Linked DNA regions of Homo sapiens. The protein of the gene in region 1 interacts with the protein of each later gene in a biochemical or structural test. Each region holds a gene or a part of one and is shown on either strand. Other genes may lie near its edges.

Region 1 (6,972 bases):
TCCAAGCATCCTAAATCTACCAAATGCAATTTTTTAGATGGGTACTATCAGGTACCAAGCCAAACACTCACCCATTTAAGAAAAATTACTTTGGAGGGCAAAGGGGAATGAAGAAGAATATTCCTCTCTGGGTTGGGAGGAGAAAATGAACAATAAGTGATACAATCTCTTCCCGGCAGCCTCACACAATGGTGTGTCTTGCAAATGAAACATACTGTGAAACAGCTTGTGAGATGAGCTTCATCAACAATAAGTAATTTTTATTCAGATTTTATCGTTGAATACAATGAACATGATTAAATGTTTCAGATATGCCTATTCAGACCTCAAGCAAACCATTAAAAAATAAAAACTACTAAAAATCATCTTCTAAATCTGCTTTAGGAAGAGATTTAATTGCCAACTCGATGTGTAGAATTGAATTCCTACTTGATAGCAGCACCGTTCCCAAGAAGATGGTCACAACATATTTGCACTTCCCACTTCGGCCTCTTTTCTCATCCCTGCGGATCCTCCCAGCGTTGCCAAATAGTTACAAAGTCAGTCCTTTCAAACCACTGCATTTTGAACTTCCTAAACCTTTAAGAGAGCCTTTGTGTATGGAAAAGAACAATAGCGCTTCAAAAGACATTTCTGCGAGTTCTTCAATATTCCATTTGAATGCTGGGGTTTCAATCAAGGACATCAGCAGACAATTTCTGATTGCTTAGAAGTTGACTTTTATACAGCTTTGATTAGGTGCCCTTCTCAATAGGAAATCAAGAAAATCTTTGATCACTTTCAGTTCCCAGAATTGTCACCAAGCCTTGTCAGGATAGGGAGTGAAAGAGATGGGGGGTGGCGGGGGGGGGGGTGGCGGGGGGGGGTGCCTACTCCTTCTGACATCTCCGAACCCCCATCTATCTTAGTGCCTGCGCAGTTCCGGTGCCATCCAGAATCACTCATCACGGAGATCACAAAAACAATGGGTGCTAATTCAAGGGGTGGGGATGGTTTGTAATTTTATGGATTTCCCAAAGACCTATAATTGGCACATAAATGTACCAACGTGAACTGGATAATTAGGCGGTTCTGAACGTAAGCCACCTTTAATTTAATTGATATGATTACTTGAAAACGTTAAGTGTTGTAAAGTGTAGTGGAACCCCCACACAGCCTTTATTCAAAACTATCAACACTGTTAAAGTGTATTTAACCGGCCAGCAGGAAGGGAGCAGGAAGGAGGAAGAAACGACGGCGCGGATTCTCGCCCCGGTCCCCGCCGGCTGGCTAGGAGCTGCACTGGAGCATCCAGCTCGCAGGAGGGCTCGCCCCCGGGCTCGCCCCCGTCCAGCTCCCAGGCGGAGAAAGGCGCTCTCGCTACCGCAAGCCCTACATCGCCCCTCTTTCTAATGGAGCTAAACACAGGCGTGCGCCGACATCCAAACGCACACGCAGACACCGACCCACGCGGGCGCGCACCCCAGACTCGGCGACACATACACACCGGAGCGCACAGATGCCCGCGTCGCGGCGCTCTCCACTCCGCCCGCCGCCAAGAGCGGAGCGGTAGCCAAGCGCCCCCGGCCTCCCCACCCCCACGCCATTCCTTCAGACTCTCCCAGCCTAAGCGGAAGTGCCCCAGCAGACCCCCAACAATGAGGATTTGTGCGATGCAGTTGGGGGTTGGGGGTAGTTCACACGGAGTGAAACGTACACAGTCTGGCGGGTCTGGGAGCAGCCAAGTGGCGTCCGCCTCTCCAGGCAGCGATCCCTTGTGCCCACTGCCCCCCATCAGGCCCACCAGCACCACCAAAAAACAAAAACAGAGAAAAGAAAAAGCGCCTTAAAAAGTGCAGAGAAAAGATGCGCCCTCCCACCAGGGGTCACAATAATACTCCTCGGGACGCAGCCAGCGGAGGCAGGGTCCTGGCTGCAGCAGCCACCCTGGTTTTGAAATTTACTTTGTACACTCACCCAGTGGCCCCTTTCAGACGCCGCGACACGACCTCCCCCCATCTCGGACTCCCTGCCTCTGGGTTCTCTCGGCGGTTGACACCCTCTTGTGTGCCTGCTTTATGAGCCGAACCACAGAGATTTAAAGTTTCCTTGGTAGAAAAAAAAACTGAGCTCTCTGCATCCAAGTCAGAGCGTCGAGTCTGGAGCAGAGAGAAGGAAGAGGGGCGGGCTGGGGAGGCGACTAGCTGGGCGTGGGGGGAGGGGGTGCTGGGGAGTGGATGGAGGGGGACGAGCGGCAGAGAACAGAGTCCACAGAGGATCCGAAGAAAGGCCGGGGTCCGAGGAACGCGGGATCCAGTTCTCACGGTGCCCGCGAAAGGGCTGGGATTACTGGGATAGAGTCGGTTTTTCGAGAGGTCGAAGCCGAATCTCAGCGCTACGGAGGAGTAGGGAAGTGAGAACGGGGTTCGGCCGAATGAGGAAAAGGGTCTGGCCACCAGCGAGGGAGGGAGGGAGTTTCGGGAGCCCAGGACAGCGGGAGAAGGCAGGCTCGAGGTCCGATATAGCCAGGACCGCAGGAGGAAAGAGGGCGCAGGGGGTCTTGGAGAGAGACGCGTGTCAGGGGTGGACAAGTCTGGAGACAGGATCGCGCGTGGTCGGAAGTAGGGAGACAGGGGCGCGGGGATGGGGGGCAGGACAGAGAAAGAGAAGTCGCCCTTTTCCTCCCAGCAAGTGGAGGGAGAAGGCGAAAAACTGCTGCAGTCGCCATCCTCCCAGCACCCCTAGCCAAACTGCTGAGTGGCGCGTCCCAGGAGCCCTCCTCCGCGCCCCGGGGCTCCAGCGAAGCCTCCTGGCTCCCCGGCGCCCTGTCCTCGCGGGGCACCTGCGGCGCTGAACTCAAGGGTTGCCGCGCGCCCCCGCCGCGCCTCACCTCGCCTAGCCCAGAGCATCCTCCTCCGCTGCCGCAGCCGCCCAGGAAGCGGCTCCCCATGCCCGGCGGGCGGCGGCACTCAGGCGCGCTCTGCAGCCCGGGGAAGCCCGGGCGAGCGCCGAGCTGGGTCCATCCTCCCCGGGAGCCACCGGCCCCGCGTCAGAGTAGGGGGAGGAGACCGCCACCCGCGCGGACCCGCCTCCTCCCGCGGCCCCCCGCCCCGCCGCCCCCCGCGCCCGCCCGGCGCCCCGCGGCACCGCTCACCTGCTAGCTCCCCGGCCGCCGCCGCCGGGCCGTGAGCCCCTCGCCCCGGCCTCGCGGCTCCCTCCGGGGCGCTCTCTGCGCAGCCGGAGCGCGCTCCGAGAGCTTAGCCGAGTGGCGGTGGCGACGAGGAGGTGGAAGAACGAGCGAGCGAGCGAGCGAGCGAGCGGGGGCGCCGCGGCTTGCAGTCGCGCCTCTGGAGCCCCTGCACTCTCTCTCCATCCCAGCGTGGAAGGGGGAGAGACGAGCCGAGAGCGAGGGGTCCCCGCCCCAGCCGCGCCAGCGTGGAGAGGGTAAGGGAGGGGGGTTGTCACAAAGTATCCAGTGTTTTCTCCCCCATCACCACCACTGGACGCAGCTCCGCCTGGCCTCTCTCATTTTTCTCTAAGATCTACCCTTTTATCCAAGCCTCGAAAACATATGCATACCCAAATATATGGAGTGCCAGGAAGGGCGAAACCACGAGGGGAGTCTCCGCGAGGGCATGTTGCCCCCACGCCCCTTGGCAGGAGGGGGCGCTCGCTCCCAGCCGCCAGTGCAGGTTCGGCGGCTCCTGTTTTGACTGAGGTTTCCCAGGCAAAGTTCGGCAAGTTGGGAGGGAGAAGGCTGGCACGTGTCAAGTTTCCGTCAGTCCTCAGGAGAGACCCGTGCCCCTGAGAGCACGCAGACCACGGTTAACTCCGGCTTACTCCCCGCGACTCCCCTACTCGGCTCTTAGAATGACTGGGAGTAAACAATCCTCCGATTCGAAGCTGTGCGGGAGGCGGCTCCAGCGAGTACACAGTCAGTTGCTCCTTGCTTAGGGTCCTAGCTCACAAAGATCCTAGAAACACCAAGTCGCAGAAAATATTGGGTCATTCTGAAAATTCTTCCACCTTGAGACTAGATTCAACTCCAGAAAATTCCTGTTGTGTGGCATACCTGTCTCCAGAGGCCTGAAATGCAGGAGAAGAGAGGAGCCTGGTGAATCAAATCAAGTGCATAATATGTAGATTCGCACAGCACACAAACCACCCTGTTGGACCCAGGTGCAGAAAAGGAAAGCAAGAGGCAGGCAACCCTTCCTTAAAAAGTTTACCGTTACTCTTTTTGGGGCTACACTCCTGTCTTCCAGCTGTATAATAACAAAGATAATGTGATGGATTTGTGCTTTTCTGTTTTGGGGTGTTTTTTTTTCTCGTAGCTTCTGACACTCACCCATGAAAATTTAATGAAGCATTTAGGGTTGTTACCTCCAGAGTCAATGGGCTAAAAATATTTAGCCTAATGCACTCCTTGTGGAGCCAGTAGGTCCAGGGCTGGTACATACAAAGTCATCAAGAGACCCTCCCTTTCTCCACAAAATTCACGACCCATTAAACTTATTCCATAATAACAGCTTCCGTACAAATGGAGACCTGAGCAAACGGAGGCTGTCATGCATCACCTGAAAAGATAGCAATTTACATAGAGACAAGAACAATTTGTAAGGTCATAGCAGGATGCAATCTTGCAAGAAGAGTTGATCAGATGAAATTTCCAAAAAGGTGGGAGGGAGGTCCTATCCCTGATACTACTCGGTTTCTACCTACTTCCAGGTGTGACAGATAATCTACGAGTGGGGAGCAGAGAAACTAGCCTAAGTCTCTACAAGTTTTCCAAAGTTCTAGAAAGTGGGGACAATTGACACCAGATATGCTTCTACACTGTGTAGGAAGTTCAGGCTTACCAGGCAACTCAATTAAGATTAACTTCAGTTTCTTCATCTATGAAGACACATCTCAAGAGTCTAAACTCAATACTGAGGAAAGAGGGACAAATCTGAGAAGACATGGTCGAAACAGGGGAAGGGAGGGTAAAAAACTGTTATGATGGAGGCACAGGTCTAAATTCTCATTGACTGCCAAAAACATTGAAGTTTCTCAATGCTTTGAGGATAGGCTTAGAACATGAAGACCATCTACATGCATCTTAAGGCCCTACTTATAAAACCTGCCGCCTTCACCCACCTTTCACTTCGTTCGGCTTTCTATTGACATTATGATTACAGACTTTGAAGAGAATTAATGACACTGACTTGGCCAAGTAATGGAAATACAAGACTCTATCTCTGCTCTGTGTTGAATCAAGTCCACCACGGAAACTGGGCAAATTTCCCTGAAATTCAACAGGGGTAACAAGCAAAGCTTTTCTCAAATCCGGGCATAACATGTAGATACCCACCAATGATCTTTCAAGTTAAACTAAACCAAATCTTAAAGGAACATTTTAAGTTGTTGTACTAAACATGTCATGAAATAAGTCACCTAATAATTAGGGGTTTTTTTCTTTTGTTCCTTTTAAAATAACAATGTCATTTGTATTAAGTGTGGCATAAGAAAAAAATCTCAGTGAACGTTTCTTTATCATCTACCCCGAGAAACAGTAAAATAAGAACAGCAAAGATGTATATATTGTTTATTATGTTTCAGACACAGTTCTGATGCTTTCCATATATTAACTCATTTGACCTTCACAGCAGCCCATTGGGGAAGGCACTCTTATTGTACTGGATAGAGTATAGAGTTTGGAATTTAATGAGCTTCATTCATCTTTAACAAGTTACTTCTGTCTACGTCAAAATTCTCAACCCTACAATGGTGGTGGATAACACTTGCTTCTTGAGATCGCAGTGAGCCTTAAATGAGATAATATATATATATATATTTTTTTGAGACAGCGTCTGGCTCTGTCGCCCAGGCTGGAGTGCAGTGGCGCGATCTCGGCTCACTGCAAGCTCCGCCTCCTGGGTTCACGCCATTCTCCTGCCTCAGCCTCTCAAGTAGCTGGGACTACAGGAGCCCGCCACCGCTCCCGGCTAATTTTTTGTATTTTTAGTAGAGACGGGGTTTCACTGTGTTAGCCAGGATGGTCTCGATCTCCTGACCTCATGATCCACCCGCCTCGGCCTCCCAAAGTGCTGGGATTACAGGCGTGAGCCACCACGCCCGGCCTAATATATTGGACATGCCTGGCACTGAATAAATCAGTCACCTGGTAAACATTGATTCTCTTCCCAGAATAATTCTAAAATAGTTCATTTAAATTTGACAGGCATTTATGGAGTCCATTCTGTATATCAGGCACTGTGGTAGGCATTGGGAATAATGGTGATAAATCAGAAACATATTCTACCTTTGAGGATCTTGGAGTCAACCTAATAAAAGACACAGGCATGAGCAGCCTGCACATGAGCAAAATGGAGTTTTATTGAACTTTACATAATTTATAACTATGCACATGATTTTCAAGATACTCAAAGGAGCAGCCTATGTAAGTGCTGGTTGACCTATCATGGAAATCAAAATCAAATGTCAGAAATCGTAAGTCCTACTAGCTATTACTACTCCTCCAAAGAAAGGGAAGCAAAGAAGCCCATTTTGTGTATTATATTTTATTTAATTCTGTTTATTCCTACAATTGTTTCAATTAGCCAGAGAGTAATAAAATTTTATGCTGTAAACTATGGGCATTTTACTTTTTCTGTAGCTTTATTGAAGTATAATTGACAAATAATGCCTCAATATTGTATATATTTAAGATGTACAAGATGATGTTTTGATATACATATACATTGTAAAATAATTAGAACAATTAAGCTAATTAGCATATCCATACCTTCACATAGTTACTAATTTTGTGCATGTGATAAGAACAGTTAAGATCTACGCTCTTAGGGCAGGGCATGGTGGCTCACACCTGTAATCTCAGCACTTTGGGAGGCCGGGACAGGTGGAACACCTGAGGTCAGGAGTTTGAGACCAGCCTGACCAACATGGTGAAACCCCGTCTCTACTAAAAATGCAAAACTTAGCCGGGCGTGG
Region 2 (7,818 bases), on another chromosome or scaffold:
ATGAGTAAGTTCTTTAGTGGTGATTTGTGAGATTTTGGTGCACCCATCACCTGAGCAATATACACTGCACCCTATTTGTAGTCTTTTATCCCTCGCCCCCCTCCCACCCTTCCCCCAAGTCCCCAAAGTCCATTGTATCATTCTTAGGCCTTTGTGTCCTCATAGCTTAGCTCCCACATACCAGTGAGAACATGCGATGTTTGGTTTTCCATTCCTGAGTTACTTCACTTTGAATAATAGTCTCCAGTTTCTTCCAAGTCACTGGGAATGCCATTAATTCCAGGACTATTCTTTAAATCTTATTTCATATATTTAAAAAAAATCACATTATTGATCATGTAACTGAACATATTATTTTAAGTGCCAGTTCATAGGCAAATTATGAGCAGATTTATATACTGACCTCCCTAATCCTCGCATGATTTGTAGAAGAAAACAAGTGAAGCCCCATTCTCTAACTATTATACAATAGTTGGGTTACTGGTTTCATACCTTTAGGTGTTATTGTATAAGCTCTAGTCTCTCCGATGTTGTTTTTAGATTGCTAACTCAGCTACTATATGTTGGTTATTAATTTTTAGAATAAATTATTTGGTGACCCAATTAAAGAAATTTGAGATGGGGTGGCGAGTAGCTAGGATCAAAAGTTACAAATGGATTTTGTTTTCATTTAGATGCCGCCGAATCCTCAAATGGCTGTAGCAACAACATGAATGCCTGTCAGCAGATTTGCCTGCCTGTACCAGGAGGATTGTTTTCCTGCGCCTGTGCCACTGGATTTAAACTCAATCCTGATAATCGGTCCTGCTCTCCATATAACTCTTTCATTGTTGTTTCAATGCTGTCTGCAATCAGAGGCTTTAGCTTGGAATTGTCAGATCATTCAGAAACCATGGTGCCGGTGGCAGGCCAAGGTATGCCAACTCCAATATAAGTAAGATTTGACTTCATCTGGCACCAGGTTGAAATCCCTGGTGCCATGAAAACATTTCTTCATGTGTGGATTCAGTGCATAATGAAGCTTTCCTTTCCCTTTAAATCAACTGGCACAGCCTAAAGTGTTTTTCAAACTTTAGTGTGTCTCAGAATCACCTGGAGGGCTCACGCCAACACAGCTCCAGACCTCGTCCCCAGATTTTTCTGATTTTGTAGTCTAGGGTAGGGCCAGAGAATCTGCACTCCTAATAAGCTCCCAGGGCATGCTGACGGTGCTGGCCCATGGATCACGCTAAGAACCACAGGCCCAGAGCAATATAGAATGTAGGATGGGTTTGCAAGAAGTACTACAGAGTTGGTGTTCCAAAGAACTGTGCCCTATTTCTGATTATTAATGGAGATTTATGGTAGAAGGTATACTACTATTTAATATGGTAATGAAATAGTCCACAAATATGATTTATTAATATATATTTGGTGAATTGAAGCAAAAGAGTTCACAGTGTCAGTCCCTCTTTAGTAATCATATTTTTGCAGCACTTTGTGCTTACATACTGTGAATGTATGAAACGATCACTTGCTTCCTAGATGAGCCAAGGTTTTTAGGTATACCTTAGCACAAGAGGAACTAAGAGTTTTCTAACATCGCTAGGAGAATGTCACAGGCTAAAGAGAGAAATAGAGGGTAGAAAGGAAGGAAAAAAGGATGAAGTCAATGAAGGGGTTGTAGAGATGGTCAGAAAATACAGAAATGCACCTGGAGAAGGGAATCAGAGAGCTTCCAGTCCCACACGTCCTCCTGCCTGATGGTCATGTTCACGTGGACCCATGACTCATCTTTGTTTTTCCATATCTAAAAAGTTATGGATCTAAGTTATCATCTTGTACAGATATGACAAATTCAATAGTTTTTTTCTCCCAGCTTTTCATTAAAAAAATGTTCAAACACAGAAACGTTGAAAGATTTAGGAAATATCCTTATACCCTTTACCAAGATTTAACAGTTGTTAACATTTCTTCACATTTGAGCTCTCAATTTGTATGTGTGTGTGTGTACATGCATATGCATTCACATTCATTTTTTATGAACCTTTTAAAAATAAATTTTAATACCATGCCACTTTACCCCTACATATGTTAGCATACAGTTTCAAAGGGCATTATGAAATATTCATAATCATATTTCTCCAGTTGGCCTCACAATATTTTATATATAGCTGTTTTGTTCCATCCAAGATCTAATCAAGATTCATGCACTGCACTGGGAATATCTCATTAGTTTCTTCCAGTTTGGAGTAGTTGCCTCTAGCTTTTTGCTATGACATTGATGTTTTAAAGAGGCAGACCTGTTGTCTTTGAGAATCCCACACTGAGGATTTGTCTGAATATTTAGTCTGTCTTTCATTTTTTACCCTGCAGTTCTCATGAAATGGAAGTTAGGTCTAATTGCTTGATTAGATCAAGGTTAAATACATTTAGCAATAATACTTTATAGGTTATGCTGTGTTAGTTGATACAGAATCTTATTAGGAAGAACATAATGTCAGCTTGCCCTGCTCTTAGTGGCATTTGAGTTTGATCACTTGGTTAAGGTGGTCACTGCTACACTGCTGCTTTTTAAAGCTGTATTTTTTTTCCTTCTTAATTTTGGTGGAATCTATGCAATCACACTTAGGCCCTGTGAATGTCTTGGCTCCCAAGCACCTTTTACCCATTGGTTTTGGCAGCCATGGATGATCCTTGTTTGAAATGATTATTTAATCGAGGATTGCAAAATGGTGATTTTCTTATTTTAGCATTCCCTTTACATTTGTTAGATAATATTCTTCTATAAAGGAAAGCTCTTCGTGTCTCCCCGGTTTACTTTTTAAATAATTTATTATTATTATGGGCTCAAATTTTTATTTTTTAAATTCAGTGTGTTACAGTCAATTACTGTAATCCTTCTTTTGATGTTTTAGTGGATCCATTTTGGCCAGGGAGAACCTCTTCAAGTGGCGACCTGTATATTTCTGTGTATGCCTTGTTTCTTGGTACAATAAGATGTTTCACACTCACTTCGTACCTTCCCTGCCTAAACCTATAATCAACATTTCTCCCGGGAGCCAGAGCTCCTTATTGTGGGAAAGAGTAGAAACCAAGATGTGGGTCTGCTCACTGCAACTGGGAAAAAAGGGTTTCATTTTGTAATGGGGAGATGCTCAGAGCAGGGGGTTGGGAATGAGGGTTTGAGAGGAAGGGCAGACATTTAAAAGTTCTAATTTCAGTGACAGCATTTTTTAATGATCTTTTCTTAACTTCCAGGACGAAACGCACTGCATGTGGATGTGGATGTGTCCTCTGGCTTTATTTATTGGTGTGATTTTAGCAGCTCAGTGGCATCTGATAATGCGATCCGTAGAATTAAACCAGATGGATCTTCTCTGATGAACATTGTGACACATGGAATAGGAGAAAATGGAGTCCGGGGTATTGCAGTGGATTGGGTAGCAGGTATGTAAGCTATATGGTGATTTTAATATGTTTGCATCTCTGTCATCTTATTTTATGCTAGAAAGTTTAGCCTAACTCCATGTGCTACAGGTTTGTTTTTCTAGACAATTATTAAGACCATTTAAGATACATTGAATCTAGATTAAGCTACGTGTCTATTTGATAAATGATACGGTGTTTCAGTTTACAGATTTATAACAAATTAATCCTTATCATTTTCTTCTGTTATTAACATAATCTGGAGACAAAAGTGGCTAAAATATTAAATTATGTGGATTTGTTTTTTTTACACTTAGATTTGCACCTGATTTCTGCATTAGAAATTTTCTAAATTTTCAAGAGAAAGAGATATAAAAATATAAACTATGGAACAGCATTCATTTGCTTTGAAGCTGAGCAATTTTAGTTGCCAAATTCTTAATTGCTTCCTTTTATTCATATATAAAAATCCCTTAGATCATGAGATATTTTATTAGTAATTTTTTTAAATGCCTGGTCCAGTATTATATTAACTTAGTTGTATTTATTCATGCACATAAGCTTGAATAACCCCTCATTTTTATCACTCATCTGAGTAAAAATACCACTCATAATTAGTGGTATTATATGTTTTGGAATATAATCCAATTCTACATAAAATCAGTATCATTGAATCAAGCTTGGTGAGTAGGCATCACTTAGAAATATTAGCATGTAGGCAGGGCGCAGTGGCTCATGCCTGTAATCCCAGCACTTTAGGAGGCTGAGGCAGGCGGATCACCTGAGGTCAAGAGTTTGAGACCAGCCTGACCAACATGGTGAAACCCCATCTCTACTAAAAACACAAAAATTAACCAGGCATGGTGGCGTACGCCTGTAATCCCAGCTACTCAGGAGCCTGAGGCAGGAGAATCTCTTGAAGCCGGGAGGTGGAGGTTGCAGTGGGCCGAGATTAAGCCACTGCCATCAAGCCTGGGTGACAGACTGAGACTCTGTCTCGAATTAAAAAAAAATTTAAAAAAAGGAAATATAAGCATGTATTATGAAAATCTAAGTACTATAATAAGAGTTTATTGCAAAAAGTAAATATGGAAGTATGGTTAAATAAAGCTTTAATTGGGTTCCTAACTCCCGTTCCTGAATAGAAATTACTATTTCTGAGGGTATAGATAAAGCAGTAGTCAGCAAACTATGGCCCGTGCGTCAAATGCAGCCTGTTGCCTGTTTTTGTAAATAAAGTTTTATTGTAACACAGCTATGCCCATTTATTTGTGTATTGTCTATGGCTGCTTTCATGTTACAGTGGCAGTGTTGAGTACTTGTGAAACCATATGCTCTGCAAAGCCTAAAATATTTATTATGTGGCCCTTTACAGAAAAAGTTTGCCAACCCTGGATTAAAGGATTGGAAATGAGCAAATGCATACATAGCAAGTAGAGTTAGGTAATGAAAAAATGTATCAGTAACATATTTCACATTGGCCTGATTTCTCTAGAGGTGGTTTGAATCAGATATAGGAACAAAATATGTGTGTCTTGGTAGTAGCATTGATAGTTCAACAACAGACTTTCAACTACATGAAATCAATAATTTGTGGTCATTCTCTACTTATTATACTATCTTCATAAAGTTATCTTTTTATTCTAGCATGTACATAAGGCCCAAAGGGAAATGGACTTTTGGTCACTTTTAGAAGGTCCATGGGATGAAAACACCTACATTAGTTAGAAAGACTAAGGAAAAACTTCATGTTAACCTTAAGTTCAAAGACCATTTGATAACATTAATAACAACCTGAGATGCTGCTGGTGCTCCCTCTTTGCTACTTTTATCACATTGGGATGGAAGTTGTGCTATGAAAATGTATATTTAGAGTGTTTCAAGTAGGTATTAAGCATTTAGAGCTTCAGATAGAAAAGGAGGGACATTCTGGAAAATATACCTTTCAGTAGAAAGTGGGTTATGATGTTGCTATGAATTCTAATCTACTTTAGAAGCTGAAGATAGGCACTTTCTCTCTAAATTTGAAGACACAATCTCTATAATTCCTAGGAGTAAGAACTTATTTTTCTAAGCCTAGACTGGGACACTATCATCTTGGAAAAGACAACATATAGTGACCCAGACTTCAACCTTATATATTTTGTTCTGAATTTGTAAAGTTCTCCCTTTTTTTCTTCTTGGTTCTCCATTGATCAGCATGCACTTTCATTTTTCCCATAGGAAATCTTTATTTCACCAATGCCTTTGTTTCTGAAACACTGATAGAAGTTCTGCGGATCAATACTACTTACCGCCGTGTTCTTCTTAAAGTCACAGTGGACATGCCTAGGCATATTGTTGTAGATCCCAAGAACAGATACCTCTTCTGGGCTGACTATGGGCAGAGACCAAAGATTGAGCGTTCTTTCCTTGACTGTACCAATCGAACAGTGCTTGTGTCAGAGGGCATTGTCACACCACGGGGCTTGGCAGTGGACCGAAGTGATGGCTACGTTTATTGGGTTGATGATTCTTTAGATATAATTGCAAGGATTCGTATCAATGGAGAGAACTCTGAAGTGATTCGTTATGGCAGTCGTTACCCAACTCCTTATGGCATCACTGTTTTTGAAAATTCTATCATATGGGTAGATAGGAATTTGAAAAAGATCTTCCAAGCCAGCAAGGAACCAGAGAACACAGAGCCACCCACAGTGATAAGAGACAATATCAACTGGCTAAGAGATGTGACCATCTTTGACAAGCAAGTCCAGCCCCGGTCACCAGCAGAGGTCAACAACAACCCTTGCTTGGAAAACAATGGTGGGTGCTCTCATCTCTGCTTTGCTCTGCCTGGATTGCACACCCCAAAATGTGACTGTGCCTTTGGGACCCTGCAAAGTGATGGCAAGAATTGTGCCATTTCAACAGAAAATTTCCTCATCTTTGCCTTGTCTAATTCCTTGAGAAGCTTACACTTGGACCCTGAAAACCATAGCCCACCTTTCCAAACAATAAATGTGGAAAGAACTGTCATGTCTCTAGACTATGACAGTGTAAGTGATAGAATCTACTTCACACAAAATTTAGCCTCTGGAGTTGGACAGATTTCCTATGCCACCCTGTCTTCAGGGATCCATACTCCAACTGTCATTGCTTCAGGTAAGTGCACTCCAGGTGCTGCTTGTCCTGCAAGTAGACACAATGGGGTCAACACACATGGATGACTGAGTGTTTCTAATGCATATGAGACTCTAATGTCTTTGTGTGTGCTTGTGTGTGTGTCTGCCTGTATGTGTCCAGGTATAGGGACTGCTGATGGCATTGCCTTTGACTGGATTACTAGAAGAATTTATTACAGTGACTACCTCAACCAGATGATTAATTCCATGGCTGAAGATGGGTCTAACCGCACTGTGATAGCCCGCGTTCCAAAACCAAGAGCAATTGTGTTAGATCCCTGCCAAGGGTATGCCATCATCTTCCTTGTTATATTTCTGTCTGCTTATTTCTGGAAAAAATGGGGCCTGAAATTATGTTCATAGATAGCCAATGTGTTATGGGCTTATAAAACTATGGCTACAGATTCAAAAATGAAAGCATATTGAGTGATTTTACGTGGGAAGGAGGGTGCAGCGCATAGCTCCCTTTGATGGCAGAAAGGTTGGCAACATACTAGGAAGTCAACACCCTGACTTACTAGATCTCCTTTGGACAAGTTGTGTAAGTAGAAATGAAGTTTCTTTTGCCATGTTACTGGCAATTTGCAATTAAAGAATATTGTCCTTTTTTTTTTTTTTAAAGGACTATGAGGTTCCCTGTGAATTAATTATTGACTCCTTTTGTATGACTAGGTACCTGTACTGGGCTGACTGGGATACACATGCCAAAATCGAGAGAGCCACATTGGGAGGAAACTTCCGCGTACCCATTGTGAACAGCAGTCTGGTCATGCCCAGTGGGCTGACTCTGGACTATGAAGAGGACCTTCTCTACTGGGTGGATGCTAGTCTGTAGGTGTCTCTGGTTACTCATGTGGGTGTTAAGAAGAGGTTTTTCTTCCATTTCCAAAGAAGAGGGATTTGCATCATGTGATGAAAATATAGCATGCCAGATAGACATTGCCAGAATATAGAATCACAGTTTTAGGAACTATGTTTATATTGGAACTTGGTGAACATACTGTGAAAATTTATCTATATCATGCATTGAATAATTATGAACTAAAAGACATCTAAAGATGCATTGCTAAATATATCTATAATTTCAGCTATAATTATAAATGTATTTTCTCAATTTAGAATTACAAATGAAATTACTCAACTTACATTCTGCAGGCCCTAGGTAACTGCTATAAAATCTGAATGACTTTTAAATGCCAATTGATATTATGTTTTTTTCTGGGCTTTAGCATTCAATGTCTTTTAG
Region 3 (6,197 bases), on another chromosome or scaffold:
GATGAAGGGCGAGAACCGCAAGACGCTCATCTCGGGCATGATTGACGAGCCCCACGCCATTGTGGTGGACCCACTGAGGGGGTGGGCAAGGGCCCTGGGGGGAGGCCTCTGGGCTGGTGGTAGGAAGCCCCCGGGACAGGGTTGGGGGCTGCACCCACATGCGTGCCCTTCCCTCCCAGGCCAGCCTGAGGACAGAGTCCTTTTCAGTCCCTTGGGTCTTCTCGGCCACCCCTGCCTGGCCCTCCCCATGCTGCCTCTGCCCAGGGCCCCCAGCTGGGCCTGCTTGGGCAGGGATCTGACCTCTGCTTGGCCGGCTGTCATGCACAGCCACACTCTGCCCTGGGGAACAGCTCTGCCAGCGTCGGTGGCTCTGAATGAGCACACTGTGGTTTTAGAGGAAAAGCCCCTCAACCTGCTCAGAAGCAGACTCCCGCCTGCTTCTCTGTAGAAGGACAGAATGCCCTCCTCCCAGTCCCCAGCAGTCCCTGTCCCCAGACCAAGAAGCTGGTGTCCTGCCTGGGCCTGCCTCCTCTGGCCCTCCGGCCTGCCCACACTCACCCCTTCTCCCTCCCCAGGACCATGTACTGGTCAGACTGGGGCAACCACCCCAAGATTGAGACGGCAGCGATGGATGGGACGCTTCGGGAGACACTGGTGCAGGACAACATTCAGTGGCCCACAGGTTTGTGGGGCAGGGTGCAGGAGGGACGGGCATGGAGGGGGCCCGGCTCGCAGAGCCCAGCTGCTGCTGAAGTCACACAAAAGCAAGGGATGGGATGGGGCTTGGACTGGGGCAGGGCAGATTGGCCGTGGAGGCTTTTCCCGAAAGAGGTGACTGTGAGTGGCGTATGAACAGGGTGGAGCTGTCCCGGGCATGGAGGCAGTTCTTTCCACCCCGAGCCTGGGTTGGGGAGGCCAAGCTCTCACAGTGCTCTCTCTCTCCCCAGGCCTGGCCGTGGATTATCACAATGAGCGGCTGTACTGGGCAGACGCCAAGCTTTCAGTCATCGGCAGCATCCGGCTCAATGGCACGGACCCCATTGTGGCTGCTGACAGCAAACGAGGTCAGAGCCCGGCATAAGTCGCAGTCCCCAGCCCTGTCCCCAGCCTTGCCATCCTCCCTACTGAGCCAAAGGCCTCACTTCAATGCCTCCCATCCTTTGTCACTGACCCCCAGCAATGCTGCAGCGCCTTCCAGGCCTCTCCAGCTGGCCTCCCCCTGAACCAGCCCTGCAGGCCTGAGACCCACCCTGACCCTCTGGCCTACTTGTCCATTCATTGGTTGGGTTGCACGGAGGCAGCATAGGTACATTAGGAACGTAGCAAATTGGGGGAGAAGGAATAGAAGTCAGTCATGACTGACCCCAGAAGTCTGGGGGTGATGGGACCTTTTGCCAGTAGTGGCCACAGGAGGAGGAACCGGTGTGGGGAGAGAGAATTTGGTCTGGATGTGTTGAGTTTGAGGTGTCTGGGAACCACAGGTGCCAGTGTCGTGGACAGCATGGCCAGGGCCTGAGTGCCCCTCAGGTCCCCTCTGACTCCACCTCCTCCCCCAGGCCTAAGTCACCCCTTCAGCATCGACGTCTTTGAGGATTACATCTATGGTGTCACCTACATCAATAATCGTGTCTTCAAGATCCATAAGTTTGGCCACAGCCCCTTGGTCAACCTGACAGGGGGCCTGAGCCACGCCTCTGACGTGGTCCTTTACCATCAGCACAAGCAGCCCGAAGGTGGGGGCAGAGGGGAGCCTGGGCTGGGGAAGGGAGGCCTGTGGGCATTGAGTCTCCAAGCTGTGGCCCTGGGACCTGGTGGAGAGGGGGTCACCCTGGGCTCACAGGGCTCAGAGAAGGGTCCTGCTCAGCATCCTCCCCACCCCACCCATACCTGCAGTGACCAACCCATGTGACCGCAAGAAATGCGAGTGGCTCTGCCTGCTGAGCCCCAGTGGGCCTGTCTGCACCTGTCCCAATGGGAAGCGGCTGGACAACGGCACATGCGTGCCTGTGCCCTCTCCAACGCCCCCCCCAGATGGTATGCTTATGCCCTCCCAGTCCCAGCCATGCCTCAGGACCATCTCCTTCCTGTGGCTCCTGACTTCCCCTGACCTTGTTGCCTGTCCCTCTCCTCCTATTCCCCTGGCTCTGCCCCTTGACGGGCCCTTCCTGCAGCTCCCCGGCCTGGAACCTGTAACCTGCAGTGCTTCAACGGTGGCAGCTGTTTCCTCAATGCACGGAGGCAGCCCAAGTGCCGCTGCCAACCCCGCTACACGGGTGACAAGTGTGAACTGGACCAGTGCTGGGAGCACTGTCGCAATGGGGGCACCTGTGCTGCCTCCCCCTCTGGTATGCCCCCTCATCCCGCCACGCCTGCTCCTTGCCCCTGGGCCCCAGCCCCGCCACCCACCACCCCACCTCAGGCAAATGCCCAGCCCCTGCCTCGCCTCCAGCCTCCTTTCCACAACCCAGCATCCAGTCACTCCAGTCTCTGCTTCTCGCCCAGGTCCCCCCAGCCCATTCCTCTGCTATAGGGCCAGGTGGTCTCGAGGGCCACAGTCGCGCTCACACATCCTCTCCCACCAGGCATGCCCACGTGCCGGTGCCCCACGGGCTTCACGGGCCCCAAATGCACCCAGCAGGTGTGTGCGGGCTACTGTGCCAACAACAGCACCTGCACTGTCAACCAGGGCAACCAGCCCCAGTGCCGATGCCTACCCGGCTTCCTGGGCGACCGCTGCCAGTACCGTGAGTGAGCCATCCCTGGGCCCCAGGGCATGCGGGAGGGTGACGGGGGACCCCAGAGCATGGGGTGATGTTCAACCTGTGCCTGGGACCCACAGGGGCAAGTTCAGGAAAGAAGGCCTTATGCAGCTGAGCCAGGCCCAAGCTGCTGGCGCTTCCCCACAAAGGTGCTGGCACACTTCCCCTGAGGCAGTGCACCCCCTGCACCAAGATTATGCAAACAGAAAAGCTCTGTTCAACCTATGGAGAGCCCTCATGAGGGTGGGGCTTGAGGCACTTCTCTCCCTCCCCAACCACAGGGCAGTGCTCTGGCTACTGTGAGAACTTTGGCACATGCCAGATGGCTGCTGATGGCTCCCGACAATGCCGCTGCACTGCCTACTTTGAGGGATCGAGGTGTGAGGTGAACAAGTGCAGCCGCTGTCTCGAAGGGGCCTGTGTGGTCAACAAGCAGAGTGGGGATGTCACCTGCAAGTGAGTGGGGCCCTCCTCCACAGTTCCACCCAGCTGGGCCCCTGCCCTGTCCTAGCCCTGCCCTGCCCCTCCCTTCCTCAGCATCCCAGGCACGCCTCTGCCAGCCCCAGCCCCAGCCTCTGATTCCTTCCTGCAGCTGCACGGATGGCCGGGTGGCCCCCAGCTGTCTGACCTGCGTCGGCCACTGCAGCAATGGCGGCTCCTGTACCATGAACAGCAAAATGATGCCTGAGTGCCAGTGAGTTGGGCCCGGGCTTCACCCAGGCATAGATCATCGCTCCCTTCCCCAGATTTGAGCAGGAGGACCGTCAGGCCTCAGTGCCCACCCCCCGCCCTGTTTTCCTGGCAGCAGTGGCTATGGAGGTTATACCTACTCAGCCGTGTCCCTCCTTTCTGCAGGTGCCCACCCCACATGACAGGGCCCCGGTGTGAGGAGCACGTCTTCAGCCAGCAGCAGCCAGGACGTAGGTGGCAGGGGTTGGGGCAGGCAGGGCCACCGGGACCTAGAGCAGGGGGACCGTGTGCCTCCTGCTTCCCTGAGCCTTGGTGACTCAGTGTCCCACCTCTTCCCTCCAGATATAGCCTCCATCCTAATCCCTCTGCTGTTGCTGCTGCTGCTGGTTCTGGTGGCCGGAGTGGTATTCTGGTATAAGCGGCGAGTCCAAGGGTGAGTCACAGGGATTCTGGAACATTCTGGTCATTATTTTGCCATCCTAGCCTTCCCCCCCAATAATCTCTGTCTCCTTATACTCCTGCCTTTCCCCAGGGCTAAGGGCTTCCAGCACCAACGGATGACCAACGGGGCCATGAACGTGGAGATTGGAAACCCCACCTACAAGATGTACGAAGGCGGAGAGCCTGATGATGTGGGAGGCCTACTGGACGCTGACTTTGCCCTGGACCCTGACAAGGTGGGCTGGGAGGCGGGCAGGGTCGAGTGCCAAGAGGCCGTGGGTGGCCTAACCAAAGGTGTTGGGTTAGGTGAGGGACGGAGGTGGGGGTGGGGTAACCTGGGCTACAGGCCCAGCTCCTGAGCCCTACCTGAACCCTCTGTCACCCTGCAGCCCACCAACTTCACCAACCCCGTGTATGCCACACTCTACATGGGGGGCCATGGCAGTCGCCACTCCCTGGCCAGCACGGACGAGAAGCGAGAACTCCTGGGCCGGGGCCCTGAGGACGAGATAGGGGACCCCTTGGCATAGGGCCCTGCCCCGTCGGACTGCCCCCAGAAAGCCTCCTGCCCCCTGCCAGTGAAGTCCTTCAGTGAGCCCCTCCCCAGCCAGCCCTTCCCTGGCCCCGCCGGATGTATAAATGTAAAAATGAAGGAATTACATTTTATATGTGAGCGAGCAAGCCGGCAAGCGAGCACAGTATTATTTCTCCATCCCCTCCCTGCCTGCTCCTTGGCACCCCCATGCTGCCTTCAGGGAGACAGGCAGGGAGGGCTTGGGGCTGCACCTCCTACCCTCCCACCAGAACGCACCCCACTGGGAGAGCTGGTGGTGCAGCCTTCCCCTCCCTGTATAAGACACTTTGCCAAGGCTCTCCCCTCTCGCCCCATCCCTGCTTGCCCGCTCCCACAGCTTCCTGAGGGCTAATTCTGGGAAGGGAGAGTTCTTTGCTGCCCCTGTCTGGAAGACGTGGCTCTGGGTGAGGTAGGCGGGAAAGGATGGAGTGTTTTAGTTCTTGGGGGAGGCCACCCCAAACCCCAGCCCCAACTCCAGGGGCACCTATGAGATGGCCATGCTCAACCCCCCTCCCAGACAGGCCCTCCCTGTCTCCAGGGCCCCCACCGAGGTTCCCAGGGCTGGAGACTTCCTCTGGTAAACATTCCTCCAGCCTCCCCTCCCCTGGGGACGCCAAGGAGGTGGGCCACACCCAGGAAGGGAAAGCGGGCAGCCCCGTTTTGGGGACGTGAACGTTTTAATAATTTTTGCTGAATTCCTTTACAACTAAATAACACAGATATTGTTATAAATAAAATTGTAAAAAAAAAAAAAAAAAAAAAGGCCAAAAAAAAAAAAAAGAAAGAAAAAAAGCCGCTGGTGTCTGCCTGTGTGTGAGAGACGCTGGGAGCTGGGGCTGCGCTTTCCTGCTTCGGCCACCAGAGGGAGACCTGCCCCGTGCTGGAGGCAGGCTGGCGCGTGGTTTTTAGTGCCCTTCTCCCAGGGCCCTCCCCCTCTCCATCTTACTGTGCCCGGGAAGCGGGTGGCACTGGACTTGACATGGAAGATCTGCTTCTCCTGGCTGTGTGACCTTCAGCCATGACTTCGAGTCTCCAGATTTTGTGTTCCCTCTGGGTCTAGGACACTAACTCAGATCTGTTTCTCTGCATTCACTTCTACCAGACACCACCCCCCTACCCAAAATGATCACCCACAGTGAGAAGCCCCACTATAAGAAGTGAATACACTGAGGCTGCAAAGGTTTTCTCATCCTTCAGGGTCCTCCCATGCGGTTCTCTCTGCCTGAGTCTGCTCTTGAAGCACTGACGTCTCACTTTGTGGAGACTAATGAATCAAATGCGAAGTAAAATGCTGCATTCCAGAGCCAGGTGTCTCCTGCGGTAAAGGAGAGCTGGGAAGACCAGTTTGCCAGGCCCTCTAGGCCCCCAGCAGCTCCAGCTCACCAATCATTTCAGTCATTCCAGGGGGTAACAGGAAAAAACTGTCAATCAAAAGTGTCCAGGTCCATTTCAACCCCTGCCTAGAGGGGGAAACTTCTTGCAGAAAGTTGCACAGTTTACACTGCCCAGGACTAGAGAGGGTTTGAGTCCCAGTACAGCAAATATGAGCTCAGGAAGGGTGGCTGCAAATGTCTGAAGATCCCTTACCCAACTCCCAACCAGGAAGTGCTGCCTTTCATTCCTCCTCCCTCACTGGTTCAACTCCAGGAGATTCCTCCCAGGCTTCCTTCTGCCTTGGGGAAGCTACAAGTCTAGGCACCTGTGGAAAGAGGAGCCCTCCCCTTCCCTTCTTA

Evidence for each region.
Region 2: the proteins of DAB1 (region 1) and LRP2 form a complex in vitro, tested with the Homo sapiens proteins (2 studies listed by BioGRID).
Region 3: the proteins of DAB1 (region 1) and LRP1 form a complex in vitro, tested with the Homo sapiens proteins (2 studies listed by BioGRID).

Annotation. Positions count from the first base shown.
Region 1 is NC_000001.11:57,421,061-57,428,032, forward strand, and holds the start of DAB1 (disabled homolog 1), read right to left. Parts: upstream 3,001-6,972; 5' UTR 2,870-3,000; intron 2,053-2,869; exon of another isoform or gene 1,957-2,052; intron 1-1,956. UniProt on the Homo sapiens protein: Signaling adapter of the reelin-mediated signaling pathway, which regulates the migration and differentiation of postmitotic neurons during brain development.
Region 2 is NC_000002.12:169,205,064-169,212,881, reverse strand, and holds part of LRP2 (low-density lipoprotein receptor-related protein 2 precursor), read left to right. Parts: intron 1-674; coding exon 675-914; intron 915-3,240; coding exon 3,241-3,429; intron 3,430-5,631; coding exon 5,632-6,552; intron 6,553-6,693; coding exon 6,694-6,859; intron 6,860-7,244; coding exon 7,245-7,403; intron 7,404-7,818. UniProt on the Homo sapiens protein: Multiligand endocytic receptor. Acts together with CUBN to mediate endocytosis of high-density lipoproteins. Mediates receptor-mediated uptake of polybasic drugs such as aprotinin, aminoglycosides and polymyxin B.
Region 3 is NC_000012.12:57,208,136-57,214,332, forward strand, and holds the end of LRP1 (prolow-density lipoprotein receptor-related protein 1 preproprotein), read left to right. Parts: coding exon 1-81; intron 82-575; coding exon 576-682; intron 683-947; coding exon 948-1,064; intron 1,065-1,556; coding exon 1,557-1,733; intron 1,734-1,893; coding exon 1,894-2,034; intron 2,035-2,171; coding exon 2,172-2,345; intron 2,346-2,582; coding exon 2,583-2,744; intron 2,745-3,040; coding exon 3,041-3,215; intron 3,216-3,351; coding exon 3,352-3,453; intron 3,454-3,614; coding exon 3,615-3,679; intron 3,680-3,791; coding exon 3,792-3,882; intron 3,883-3,981; coding exon 3,982-4,126; intron 4,127-4,279; coding exon 4,280-4,420; 3' UTR 4,421-5,226; downstream 5,227-6,197. UniProt on the Homo sapiens protein: Endocytic receptor involved in endocytosis and in phagocytosis of apoptotic cells. Required for early embryonic development. Involved in cellular lipid homeostasis.